2 linked regions of the Homo sapiens genome follow. The protein of the gene in region 1 purifies or fractionates together with the protein of each later gene. This does not show direct contact. Each region holds a gene or a part of one and is shown on either strand. Other genes may lie near its edges.

Region 1 (5,525 bases):
GCGTGAGGGTAGAGTAGTCCTCCCCTCAGGAGGATGCAGCAATAAGGAACCATCTTGGAAACAGAAAGCAGCTCTCATCAGACAACTGAACGTGCACATGCCTTGATTTTGGGATTCCCAGACTCCAGAACTGTGAGCAGTAAGTGTCTGTTCATTGAAAATTACCCAGCCTGTAATATTCTGTTTTAGCAGTACAGAGTAAGACACTCCAGGCATCCTGTATTTTATCTGGCAACCTTAGGACAGTAGGGCTTCTGTTCACCCTTCAGAGGCCAGGTCACTGCTGATGATAAGAACACTTGGGAGTAAGGGGGAGTGGGATCTAAATAGAGTTTTCCAGTTATAGCCTCCTTTCATAATCCTAGCTCCTTATGGGAGGGCAGAGCAAAGTGATTTAGACCCCTGGCTCTCAACATGTGTTCCCTCACACAAGCGCCATCAGCATCACCTGGAACTTGTCAGAAATGCAAATCCTTGAGCTCCTTCCCAAGCCTACTGATTGATACCCCAGGGACAGGGCCCAGCATGCTTGGCTTTAACAAGCCGTCCAGGTGATGCTGATGATACAAGTTTAGCCCTCCATCAAGAGCCCTGGGGATCAGACAGACCTGGGCTTGAACCCCAGTCCCACTGTTTACTGGCTGTGTGAACGTAGTGGAATTACTTAACTTCTCCAAGCTTCCATTTCTTCCTAAATTAAAAAGTAATCCAATACCTTATTTAGGGATGTATTAAATATTAAAGTTATATGCTACATATACAGTCCAAATTGCCTCTCATTGTAGGCAACTATTCTTATTTTTTTCTCTCTCTGTTGCTTGAATCAGCAGTTTATTCTTATGACACAAGTATAGGTCCAGCCATGCCCCGAGACAAATTTGAGGGTCTGCATTGGCAAGCTCCAGTTACAGGGCAATCTTTGTGTGCTCAGTTCAAAGGAGTCTTTAATTCTCAACACTTCCATTTCCAATAGTCCCAAGGAAGGACAAAGAAATGAAGAGGAAAAGGTTACAGGGAGAGAAAGGACCCATTTCCTGTGGGCACTGGTTCTCTAATCCACCAACAGTGAGAGTGGAGGGCCACACTGATTTAATTACTTTTGCCCACAGCAATTGTTCAGGAGGTGGGCTATTTTTTTTTCTTCCTTTTGTGGAAAAGAGAAAAAGGAGGCCTGAGTCAGTAAGGACAGTATGGGGGCTCCTTCTAATGGGGGAGGATTAGTACATTTAGGCATGTTTCACAAGTCCAATCTGGGGGCTCCCATATTAAATCTAGACAAGAGTTTCTCCAGTTTGGCACTATTGACATTTTGGGTCAGATAATTCTTTGTTATGGGGGCTGTCCTTTGCCTTGTAGGATGTTTAGCAACATCCTCGGCCCCTAGCTCCTAGATGCCAGAAGTCTCCCTTATTGCCCCTCACGGTATTGGCAATCAAAACCATCTCTAGGCATTAGCTGGCCTCTGAGGAATGAATTTGCCTTTGAGAACCACTGGTCTAGAGATTTCACTAGATAACATCCACTTAAACAATTTTAATACCTATCATTTATTGAGCGTTTACACATATCTGTTATCCCCAGACTCATTTTACAAGGCAGGTGGTTTTATTTATTTATTTATTTATTTATTTATTTGAGGCAGGGTCTTACTCTGCCATCTAGATTGGAGTGCAGTAATGTGGTTATAGCTTACTCTAACCTCAAACTCCTGGGCTCAAGTGATCTCACCTCAGTCTTCCAAGTAGCTGGGACTACAGGTGTGGGCCAGCACACCCAGATAATTCTTAATAAGTTTTTGTAGAGGCAGGGTCTCACTATATTGCTCAGCCTGGCAGGGTAAGTATTGCCTACATTTCACAGTTGAAGAAACTGAGGCTTAAAGGGTTAGAGTCGCTTGCCTAAAAGCATACAGCTGGTAGCTCTGGGATTCTGACTAAGGTTGGTCTAACTCCAAAGCTTGTATAATTTCTGCTGTAACCCTCCCTCCCTCTGGAAAGTTAAGAATTTTAGAAAAATTTAAAGTAAAAAAAATTTTCTCAAGTCAACTCAAGTCCAAAAATATTTATTGAGCTAGATGCCACGAGAAGCTACAAGAAAAATCTAAGCTGTTGCTCCCCTCAGGTTTTCAATATCAACGTCATTGAGAAGGTCAGATGTTTCACACAACACAGAGCAACTATGAGACATTCTGAGTTTGGGCCAAAATGAGTATTTCTAGAGGCAGTACTTTGTGAACGAAATGGCCTTTGTGTATGTCTGCTTCACATTTCCTTTTGCTGCCAATCATAATGATTAAAAAAAGAGCAATGAAGCCTTGAAGTTCATGGAATCTACCAGCCACATGTCCTATAAAATACTAATTCTCTTGTCTTGGGGTGAGCTGTGGGTTGCTTCCAAGCAAACACTCAGCTATCTTCTTTCTGGCTCTCTGCATGAAGTTCACCTCTCCCCTCTCCCTGCGTATGGTGGTATACTCATAAGCCTTCAGCTTGCTGTAGTAATCAGAAAACTTGTTGTAGAGGATGGAAATGGGCATCCCGTTGAGAATGATCCCAAAAGCAATGCAGAGGAAGGCAAAAAACCTGCCCAGGTGGGTCTCTGGGTACATGTCTCCGTAGCCCACGGTGGAGATGCTCACCTGTAGAGGAAGGAAAGCAGGATGGAATTGTTAGCACTAAGATCGGGGAGGAGAAGAAAGGGAGAGGAGCAAGCAGGGAAGCGTCCTCCCTGTGGGTACACATGGGAAGTGTAATGGCTTCCCACGGAGCCTGCTTTAGGAGGTACCAGGAAGACTCCCTCTAGGACCTGTGTCATGAAAAGAACAGAAGCTATGGATGGAGCTGAAAGACTTTGGCTGAAATCCTGACTACGACTCATGCATGTTTGAATGTAAGATATGGGAGGAGGAGGTAATACCTACTTGAAATGGTTGCTGTAAAGAGCATTTAAAATAGTATGTTAAGTACCTGATGTAGAACGTGCTCAGTAAATGATCTTTGCCTCCCTAACTCAGCTGGCACCAGATTCAGGAAAGCAGGTCCCTGGGTTTGCCTGTACACTGTATGTATTGGAAAAATCTTGGGCTTAGAACAGTCAGACCTGGGTTCAAGTCCTGACTCTGAACCTTTCCAGTTGAGTGACCTGGGGCAAAACCTTCAGACTCTCTCTCTCTCTTTTTCTTTTTTTCTTTTTTTTTTTTTTTATTTAAAACAGGAGAAAACCATCTAACTCTTAGGATTCTTGTGAAGGCTAAATAAGAAAATGAATATAAAGCACTGAACACAGTACCAGGCATACAAAAGGCATGAAACTCCTCCATTGTCTTCCTCTCATCTTTAAAATGAAGACAGTTATAACACTTTTCAAAGTTGTTACGTAGTTCAAATGAGAGACTTTATGTGAAGGTGCTTTAATTGCAGATGTCTGGAGAAACACTCTCATTATTTTGTAAAGGGACTTTTGTAAGACATCACTCACCAAAAATATGTTCACCCCTGCATGAAATACTTCCCATTACTCTTGTCATACTGATTTAAATCCCACTAATTGGAGACTTATTTAGGTTAACAAGCTTCTGTTTTAAAATGCAGATACCATGGGACTAGTTATCAGTTACCAGAGAAAACCCTGTGAAAATTCCTTGGGGACTGTTTTTTATGCCTCATGTACTCCCTCTGATCCCCAGAGTATTGGCTAAATTACTAGAAGCCTTTTAAGCAGAGCTGTTGGTCACAGTTGTAAACATTTTTGCGTTGCACTACTCCAGGGGGGCACTCTTTGCTTTGTGTATTTGGGTAGTTGTTGCCATAATTTTCCAGCAGACGGCAGTAAAGCATATGGTCATCTTGTTGATCCGTGCTGAGGTGGCCGTTAGCTTAGCAGTGTAAATATTTTTGTTTTGATGATGTAAGGGTTAGTTTGAACCTGGAATAGTGCAGTTGACTGATTAGAATGAAATGGAGAAGTGAGCCAGCTGCACAAAACTGAGGGCACTGATGAGAACCACAGCTCCATCCAGCCCACGAAAAAAGGAAGGGTATGCCTCCTTTTTGAGGCTGATGATGCACCTCCTGTCACTCACTGCCCTGTCTCTTGTGAGAGGTCATGCAGCCTTTTTCTGCAGAGTCAAAATACAAGCAGGCATCCAAGAGAGGTAATGTGGTGTAGATAAGCTGAAGGAAACGGACTACAGTAGACTTGTGGGTCTGAATCCACTTCCCAGCTGAATAAGTTGGGCAGATCACCTAAATTCTCTTGGCCTCAGTTTCTACTTTTGAAATGTGTGGTATCTACCTCACAGAGTTGTTATAGGAATTGAAGGAGTGCCTGGCACAGGGTGTGTAAGCAATAATATTATTATATATATATCATGTATGCAATCCCAGGGTCCCCCATGCTGAAGCTGGCCTCCACTGAGAAGAGGCAAAGACCAACATTTATTGAGTGCATTCTACACCAGCAACTCTATATACGTTATGCTTATCAGACCCTCAGGCTGTGGAAACAAGCTCCTCCCTGACTCTGCCCTCTGGCTCCAGTAGAGAATATCCTTCTCCCAACTTCTGGACCAAGGGGTGATGTGAGGCAGTGATAAAGTGAGATTGTGGGTTAATCTCAAAGTCCTCTTGGTTGCATGAGTGGGTGTGTCTTTTTTTTATTTAAGTTCTAGGGTACATGTGCACAACGTGCAGGTTAGTTACATATGTATACATGTGCCATGTTGGTGTGCTGCACCCAGTAACTTGTCATTTAACGTTAGGTATATCTCCAAATGCTACCCCTCCCCCCTCCCCCACCCCACAACAGGCCCTGGTGTGTGATGTTCCCCTTCCTGTGTCCGGGTGTGTGTTTCTTGTCATTGACCACACCAAAAGTCAAAGAACCCCAGGCTGATCTCTCTCCAGTTGTGTGAGCTGAACAATAGCTTTCATTTGTCACTAACACCATGACTCACACCTCTGGATGAAAGTTTAGTCAACCTTCCCTGGAGGAGGCCTAAAGGGAGTTTGGATTTAGGAGTGAGTGACAGGAAGGGGTAGTTTAGAACAGCGGTCCCCAACCTCTTTGGCACCAGGGACCGGTTTTGTGGACGACCATTTTTCCCATGGACGGGGTTGGGGGAGGGGATGGTTTCGGGATGAAACTGCTCCATCTCAGGTTGTCAGGTATTAGTTAGATTCTCATAAGGAGCAAGCAACCTAGATCCCTCCCATGCGCAGTTAACAATAGGGTTCCCACTCCTATGAGAATCTAACGCTGTGGTTGATCTGACAGGAGGCAGAACTTAGGCGGTAATGATTGATGGCCCTCCACTCATCTCCTGCTGTGTGGCCGGGTTCCTAACAGGCCACAGACAAGTACCACTCCACAGCCCGGGATTGGGGACCCCTGGTTTAGAACATGAGACATCCACGGAAGTCCAATGCAGAGGCCTTGGAGGAAACAAGTCACTTAAGGGTTCAGGATGGCGGGGATGGGAGAGAGTAGGAAGACACTGAGGAAGAAAATAATTAAGATAAACTGCT
Region 2 (7,326 bases), on another chromosome or scaffold:
CACTTTTTACAGAGTAGAGCAGCTGCCCTAAGCATTCCAGCCTTGGGTTGAGCCAGCCTTTTAGCCCTAGATGTGTCTGTTGGTAACATGGTGTCATCTAACCCAGCTGTTCCCATGCTGCACTGATCATCCGAATCACCTGCCAAGCTCAAGAAGTAAAACACACATTCCGAGGACCTCCCTCAGATTTACTGAGTGAGAACCTCCAGGGGTGGGACCTGGAGATCCACTTTTTGAAAAAGCTTATCAAGTGGTTCTGATGACAGCCACCTTTGGGAAACACTGATTTAAGCAGGATTTGTAATGAGAATTAGAATCCCTTTTGGTGATGCTTGTTGGCCAAAGTACAACAAACCCCTCAACAGACACTGTTGCTGGGTTTTGGGGGGAAAATTAGAGGTAACCAAAATGGGGTGGCCAAGCAACGCTGTGCAAGTTCTGGACCTGAGAGGAGATCTGGGAAGAACTCAGCGAACTCAGCACTCCACCCAGAGCCCCCAGCCTGTGCGAGGACGGTGCGGTGAGAGTGGGGTGGAGGGAGCTTATGGGCTCTCCTGGGCCCCTCACCTGGATGGGAAAGATCCCGGGGACGATGGGGCAAGTGATGCCCATGTCGGTGCATGCCTTCACAAAGCGGAAGAATGTGTCAGCCTCAAAGAAAAGCTGCGTGATGATGAAATCGGCTCCCGCAGACACCTTCTCCTTCAAGTGCTTCAGGTCAGCCTCAAAGCTCCCTGCTTCGGGGTGGCCTTTGGGGTAACCTGCCAATAGGGATGACAGTCAGGAGAGGCTGGCCTCCACCTGTTCAAGGCGAGGGATGAAGAGACCACAGGGACTGGGCAGAGAGAGTCCTCTGCTTTGGGGGCTCTGATCTTGCACCTTCCAACAGCACAGCACAGCCTGAACTAAAACAGTGAGTGGCTGGGCTCATGACTGATATGCTTCTGACCCCAGAGATGACTCTCAGGGGAGGTGGCTCAGAGCCCAGTTCCAAGAGTGGGGGTGGATTGCTCCAAACTCCCACACTGTCCTGCCTTGAGCAGCCAAGCAAATCAGGCCTGCACTTGGTGGCCATAGAAAAGAGAAAATGCTACAGTTAGCACTGGCTGGGCAGCATCTGGGGTAGTAAGCTTGACTTTTCTCTAGGCACCGGATTAAACATTGTTTTTAATGTAACACTGAAATTACTCAGGGGTCCAAGATAGTGAAAAGCTAAAAACCAAGTTACACAAGGAAGAACTGAAGAAAGTGATGTTTTCTTCAAAGAAAATAATGGATGGCAGGGTGCGGTGGCTCATGTCTGTAATCCCAGCACTTTGGGAGGCCAAGGCAGGAGGATGACCTGAGGTCAGGAGTTCGAGACCAGCCTGGCCAACATGGTAAAACCCCGTCTCTACCAAAAATACAAAAATTAGCCAGGTGTGGTGGTGTATGCCTGTAATAGCTACTCAGGAGGCTGAGTCAGGAAAATTGCTTGAACCCACGAGACAGAGGTTGCAGTGAGCCGAGATCGTACCATTGCACTCTAGCCTGGGCAACGAGAGCGAAACTCCGTCTCAAAAAAAAAAAAAAAAAAAAGAATGAAAAGAATACAGAAACTCCTTTCAAATGTCCAAAGGTCTGTCCTGGGGAAAAAGGATCCACCATAGGTGAGTTTGTTTTGTTTTGTTTCAGAGACAGGGTCTTGCTCTGTCACCCAGGCTAGAGTGCAGTGATACAATCATGGCTCACTGTAGCCTTGAACTCCCGGGCACAAGTGATCTCCCACTTCAGTCTCCTGAGTAGCTTGGACTACAGATGCAAGCCACCACATCTGGCTAATTAAAAAAAATTTTTTTAATTAATTATTTATTTTTTAGAGATGGGGTCTTGCTATCTTGTCCAGGTTTGTCTGGAACTTCTGGGCTCAAGCAATCCTCCCACCTTGGCCTCCCAAAGTGCTGAGATTACAGGCATGAGCCACTGTACCCAGCCCCCTAGTGAAGTTCTTTATTAGTCATATTCTGTGTTGTTTCTAATGGCAGAACCAGCATCCGGTTCAGAGAGCTGGCTAGAGTACTATAAGCCACTCACAAAACAATGAGCTCCTGGAGTCTGAAAACACAGGGGCAGTGGATGCTGAAGACAAGATTCCAGAATTGCTTAGGAGGTGGGATCAGATGTCCCATAGGCTCCTTACTGGCTCTGTGAACTCTCTGACCCCTTTCCTCAATGACTAAACTTACTAGCCGCCTTGCTCGGTCAGGCAAGCAGGATGACCATAGGCCTTCATGAAACTACATGGAGTGCTGGTTTCATCAGCCCAAGCCCAGGGCAGGACTCTGAGCCAGGCGGAAGGCCAAGCTGCTTTGCTCTGATAAGGCAGTTCCGTTCTTAAGAAACCCAGAGTCATCAAAAAATGAATATAAAAACTATTGTTTCAAGGGGTAAGGGAGTGGGGGATAAAGCAATGGGGCTTCACACTTGCAATAACAAAGCTATTTTCCCAGTAGGAATTTCAGAAACAACAAGGCTTTTTAATAGCTGAAAAGTATAGCTACAATACCTAAATATCACCGAACAAATCTAGCATTTGATTACGTATAGATTTTGCTATTTACTCTATTTTTCTATCATGAACAGCTGAGGGCTTTCTTTTTTAAAATGTTTTTATTTTTTGTAGAGACACGGTCTCACTGTGTTGCCCAGGCTGGTCTTGATCTCCTGCCTCAGTCTCCCAAAGCTCTGGGATTACAGGCATGAGCTACCATGCCCAACAGGTTGGTGTTTTCTAATCCACTCATCTTCATTACCCACTTGATAAGCAAAGTAAGAAACCATTCAGCAACTGTGAGCTCACAGCTTCACTAGTTTCCAATCATTATCACCTAACGCCCATCACGGGTGCATATTCCCCCAGTAACTGACTATATAATGGCTGATACAAGCGATGACAATTTAACAGTTGGAAATGTCTGTTCTCTGACTCCTAATCAGTGCTTCCCAGACTTAGCACCTAAACACCCCTGTTGACAGAATGGACATGTCCATCGGGGGTTAGGGACAAGGCCAAAGTTACTCACAACATGTAATTTTCTTGAAGCCACGTGGTTTGTTTTTTGGGTTTTTTGTTTTGTTTTTTTTGAGACGGAGTCTGGCTCTGTTGCCCAGGCTACAGTGCATTGGTGCGATCTCGGCTCACTGCAAGCTCCGCCTCCTGGGTTCAAGCGATTCTCCTGCCTCAGCCTACCAAGTAGCTGGGACTACAGGCACGCGCCACCATGCCCGGCTAATTTTTGTATTTTTAGTAGAGACGGGGTTTCACTATGTTGGACAGGATGGTCTCAAACTCCTGATCTCATGATCCACCCGCCTTGGCCTCCCAAAGTGCTGGGATTATAGGCTTCAGCCACCGCACCTGGCCTTTTTTTTTTAGTTCATATCACTTTAGATGCTACTCCATAACATAGCCATGTTTAATATAAAAATGGTAGGATTTCTCCCAGAATATTGGCAAAAAAACTGTCATCCCAGAAAATGTGCCAATCCCGGGACTTCCTGTCCCTGGTGCACACTGTCTTGCCATACCTGAGCGCTGTCTGAGACGCTGAGGGCTCAATGCCAGCCTTCAGCTTCAAGGGTGGGAGAGAAGTCCAACCCACCCATTTCTGTTGGGGGAACCTGGTCTTGTGGCTGTGGCCAATGGTGATTCTCTTTCCTGGGAATTTGGAACGGAGGCCTGTCCATTAGCCTGGGGAACTGGCTGGAACTGACACTCTGCACACTCAGGAGCAGGCCAGGTGTGTGGAAAAGCATGGGTATCAGGTCTCCCAGATGAAGCACAGATGTGCAGTGGGAAGCGGAGATGGGGGACCCTGTGGCCCCAGAGGGAATGAGGGAGGGCCTTGCTTTTTGACCTCTTCCAGTGCCTTGTGAGGTCTGAGGCCATCTCCTGATCTTGGGTTCCCTGCCCTCTGGAATCCTGTTAGTAAATATCCCTCTTTTGTGGGGTGTTGTTTTTTTTTTTTTTTTGAGATGGAGTCTTGCTCTGCCACTGAGGCTGGACTGCAGCGGCACCATCTCGGCTCACTGCAACCTCCGCCTCTTGGGTCCAAGAGATTCTCCTGGCTCAGCCTCCTGAGTAGCTGGGACTACAGCCGTGCACCACCACACCTGGCTAATTTTTGTATTTTTAGTAGAGACGGGGTTTCGCTATGTTGGCCAGGCAGGTCTCAAACTCCTGACCTCAGGTGATCTGCCTGCCTCGGCCTCCCAAAGTGTTGGGGTTACAGGTGTGAGCCACCGCGCCCAGACCCCTCTTTCGTTTTAAAGAAAAGAATAAGGCCAAGCAGGCTAAGGGCACAGCCAGGCAGAGGAACAAAAAGCTAGGGGTCGATGGTGGCAGGCCCAGGAGGGGAGTGGGTGATACAAAAGGAGCAAGGACATGGTGCAGTTCACCTCTGCATGTCCTTCATCCAGCATGGACCCATGAGTGCCCCTGATCACTGTGTCCTGAACCGAACACCGACAGGCTCTCTGGGCATCTCAGCCTCCCTAGCTCCATCCCCGCCACCAGGATGATCCAGCCACTCACCTGCCACACAGATGTCAAAGTAGTCACCAAACTCACTTCGGATGTGCTTCACCAGGTCCACTGCGTAGTTGAAGCCTCCCTCCTCCTCTTCCCACTGGTCACCTATTGGGTCTGCAGGGTTGGTGGAGGTCATAGTCACTGGGTCTCACCCAACCTCCAGAGACCCTTTCTGTTCCCTCTACCTAGCCCCGACACCCAGGACTGCGAGTCCCTGGAAGGCAGAAACTTCATATTATTTAGGTTTGGTTCGTCTCTTTCTAGCACTTGGTAAGACAGCAGGAGGGAAAAAAGCAGCCCACCAGTTCAATATTCACTGCATGCTGACCCTGTGCTGGCGGTGGAGAATAGGAGACCACCGCTGCTTCTCACCGTGCCTGGAGGATTGGAGAGCCCTTCCCTACTTCTACCTGGGCATGCCTGCCACCCTCTCCCATCCCACGGCCTTGGGGCTCCTGCCTCCTGGGAGAATTTTCTACTCATCTCAAGTGAAGGGGTCTTGTGGTAGGGAGCACGAGGCCATAGGATCCCACCCATCAGGCTCCCTCTTCCCACTCTTAGGTGGCCTGACAACAGCGGGCACCAGAGGCCTGACCGGCTATTCTCACTCCTGGATACTCTGTTACTCTGTGATTGGGCCAAGTGCTGGGTGCAGCCAGCAATCGATGCAGTGGTGTAGGCAAGGCAGAGGGTTATCAGGCCGCGACTGCATTCCTGACGGAACTCCTATGTCGAGGTCAAGAGGTGGAAGAGGTGGCTGCCTGTGTGTGGTGCCCAGGATGACTCACTACCCACAATGCCTACTGACACTACTGGCGGGGATGGGATCCTGCGGATCCTCAGCGTGGGGCCCAGGAAGAAGTAAAGGACCATTTCAGGAACCAAGTTCAGGCTACCAAGTGGCCTCCGGGAAAGCCAGAACCCAGAGTGTAGGGGAGTGCTGGCTCCACACCTCCCCGCAGCGCCATGATGTTCTTCAGGCCCAGCTGCTTAGCTTTGTGCAGATGGCCCGTGATCTCCTCCAGGCGCTGACGGCAGCAGGTCATGTGCAGGATGGTCTCCAGGCCACAGTAGTTCACGGCGGTGCTGGCGATCATCATGGAGGAGGTCTCCTTGTCTGAGCCAGGGTCACCTGCTGGGTGCCAGGTCACGTCTATGTAGAGGGGGCCACCTGCTGCCATCCGGTCAAACCTGTAGGGGGTTTGTTTCTGAAGAGAGGTTCCAGGAGAAATACCATCCGTCACTGCCTTCCCATGGGGCCCGGGAGTTAGAGAAGCATCAATGAAGGTTGGAGACAGACCAATCAGCGTTCATATCCTGGCTTTGCTACTTATAGCTGTGTGATCTTGGGTACATTACTTAATCTCTGTGAGTTCTGTTTCCTTATTTATAAGACACGGCAGATAGTAGTACCCACTTCATAATAACACTAGGATGCTGGGCGTGGTGGCTCACGCCTGTAATCCCAGCACTTCAGGAGGCTGAAGTGAGTGGATCACTTGAGGTCAGGAGTTCCAGACCGCCTGGCCAACATAGTGAAACCTCATCTCTACTAAAAATACAAAAATTAGCTGGGTGTGGTGGTGGGCACCTGTAATCCCAGCTACTTGAGAGGCTGAGGCAGGAGAATTGCTTGAGCCAGGAGGCAGAGGTTGCAATGAGCCAAGATCACACCACTGCACTCCAGCCTGGGCCACAGAATGAGACTCTGTCTCAAAAAAAAAAAAAAAAAAAAAAAAGCAACAACAACAACAAAAAACCATAACACTAGGAGAATATGACGGCAGCTGGTTCCACAGAACTTAGAACAGTGCCTGGTGTACAAACCGAATACTCAGTATATGTGAGGTGCCGTTATAATCACTATTACAGAGGTAAGACACAACAACAGCGCTATCATTTTGTGTGAGAGCAGCACTTCAGACTTTTCACAGCGCTTGCCTGTTTATTATCTCAGGTGAGTTAAGACATCATGATTGAGAGTTAGGGGAATCCTAACTGTGGCAAGCACAGCCTCGCTGTAGGAACAGTTAGAAAGAGGGTCAGCAGACTCACTTTCTTTCATGCCACCCCCCAAGCCCTGTGCAGCAGCTTACAGTTATGCAGACCAAGGCCAAGTTCCGAAACGAGACTCAAAAAAAAGCCTGGATGTGCACGAGTACTTGTGTTACAAGCTATCAACGGTGTATTTAAACATCCTTGTGCATTTAAACTTCAAAAACTTGGGAGTGACACGTGAGACGTGCATACAGTAAAAGGCATAAACTTAAAAAAAAAACTGCAATTCATGAAGTGCTAATGTAATTCAGTTGGCATTTCTAGAGTTCAAGAAGCATAATCCAAATTTCTAACTTGCTGAAAACAATCTCACTGCTTTGTGACTTCCTAAACTGCACTCGTGATCCAGCCCCCAAGTTCCCTCAAAGAATACAGTGTGAGAATCAACATTTTTAACCCATTGAAGAGTGTGTCTAAAATACCTTGACACTGTGGAGGGACTTTTACAGGCAACAGAGAAGTTGCAGATCAGATGACCCACTCTGCCTTCTCCTTCCTGCCCCCTCCGGCTGCTTTTTTCTGCCGGGTTAAAGGGCAGCCCAGCCTCAGGGCTGACAGTTTGCTCCCCAGGCACCACCACTCCCGCCTCCCACCTTAACCTTGCATGAGTTTACCTTGAGATGAGATTGACAGCTCCCTCAGCAGTTCGAGGAGGGAAGAATTCCAGGGAGAACCACTTGTCACCAGATTCCAATCGC

The links. Proteins that work in one complex are often made in the same cells at the same time.
Region 2: the proteins of KCNV2 (region 1) and MTHFR purify together in Homo sapiens (affinity purification with mass spectrometry; 2 studies listed by BioGRID and IntAct, with this or other methods). This does not show direct contact.

The regions. Positions count from the first base shown.
Region 1 is NC_000009.12:2,726,559-2,732,083, reverse strand, and holds the end of KCNV2 (potassium voltage-gated channel subfamily V member 2), read right to left. Parts: intron 2,639-5,525; coding exon 2,357-2,638; 3' UTR 2,047-2,356; downstream 1-2,046.
Region 2 is NC_000001.11:11,795,639-11,802,964, forward strand, and holds part of MTHFR (methylenetetrahydrofolate reductase (NADPH)), read right to left. Parts: coding exon 7,243-7,326; intron 5,779-7,242; exon of another isoform or gene 5,762-5,778; coding exon 5,523-5,761; intron 4,685-5,522; coding exon 4,574-4,684; intron 762-4,573; coding exon 568-761; intron 1-567. UniProt on the Homo sapiens protein: Catalyzes the conversion of 5,10-methylenetetrahydrofolate to 5-methyltetrahydrofolate, a cosubstrate for homocysteine remethylation to methionine. Represents a key regulatory connection between the folate and methionine cycles.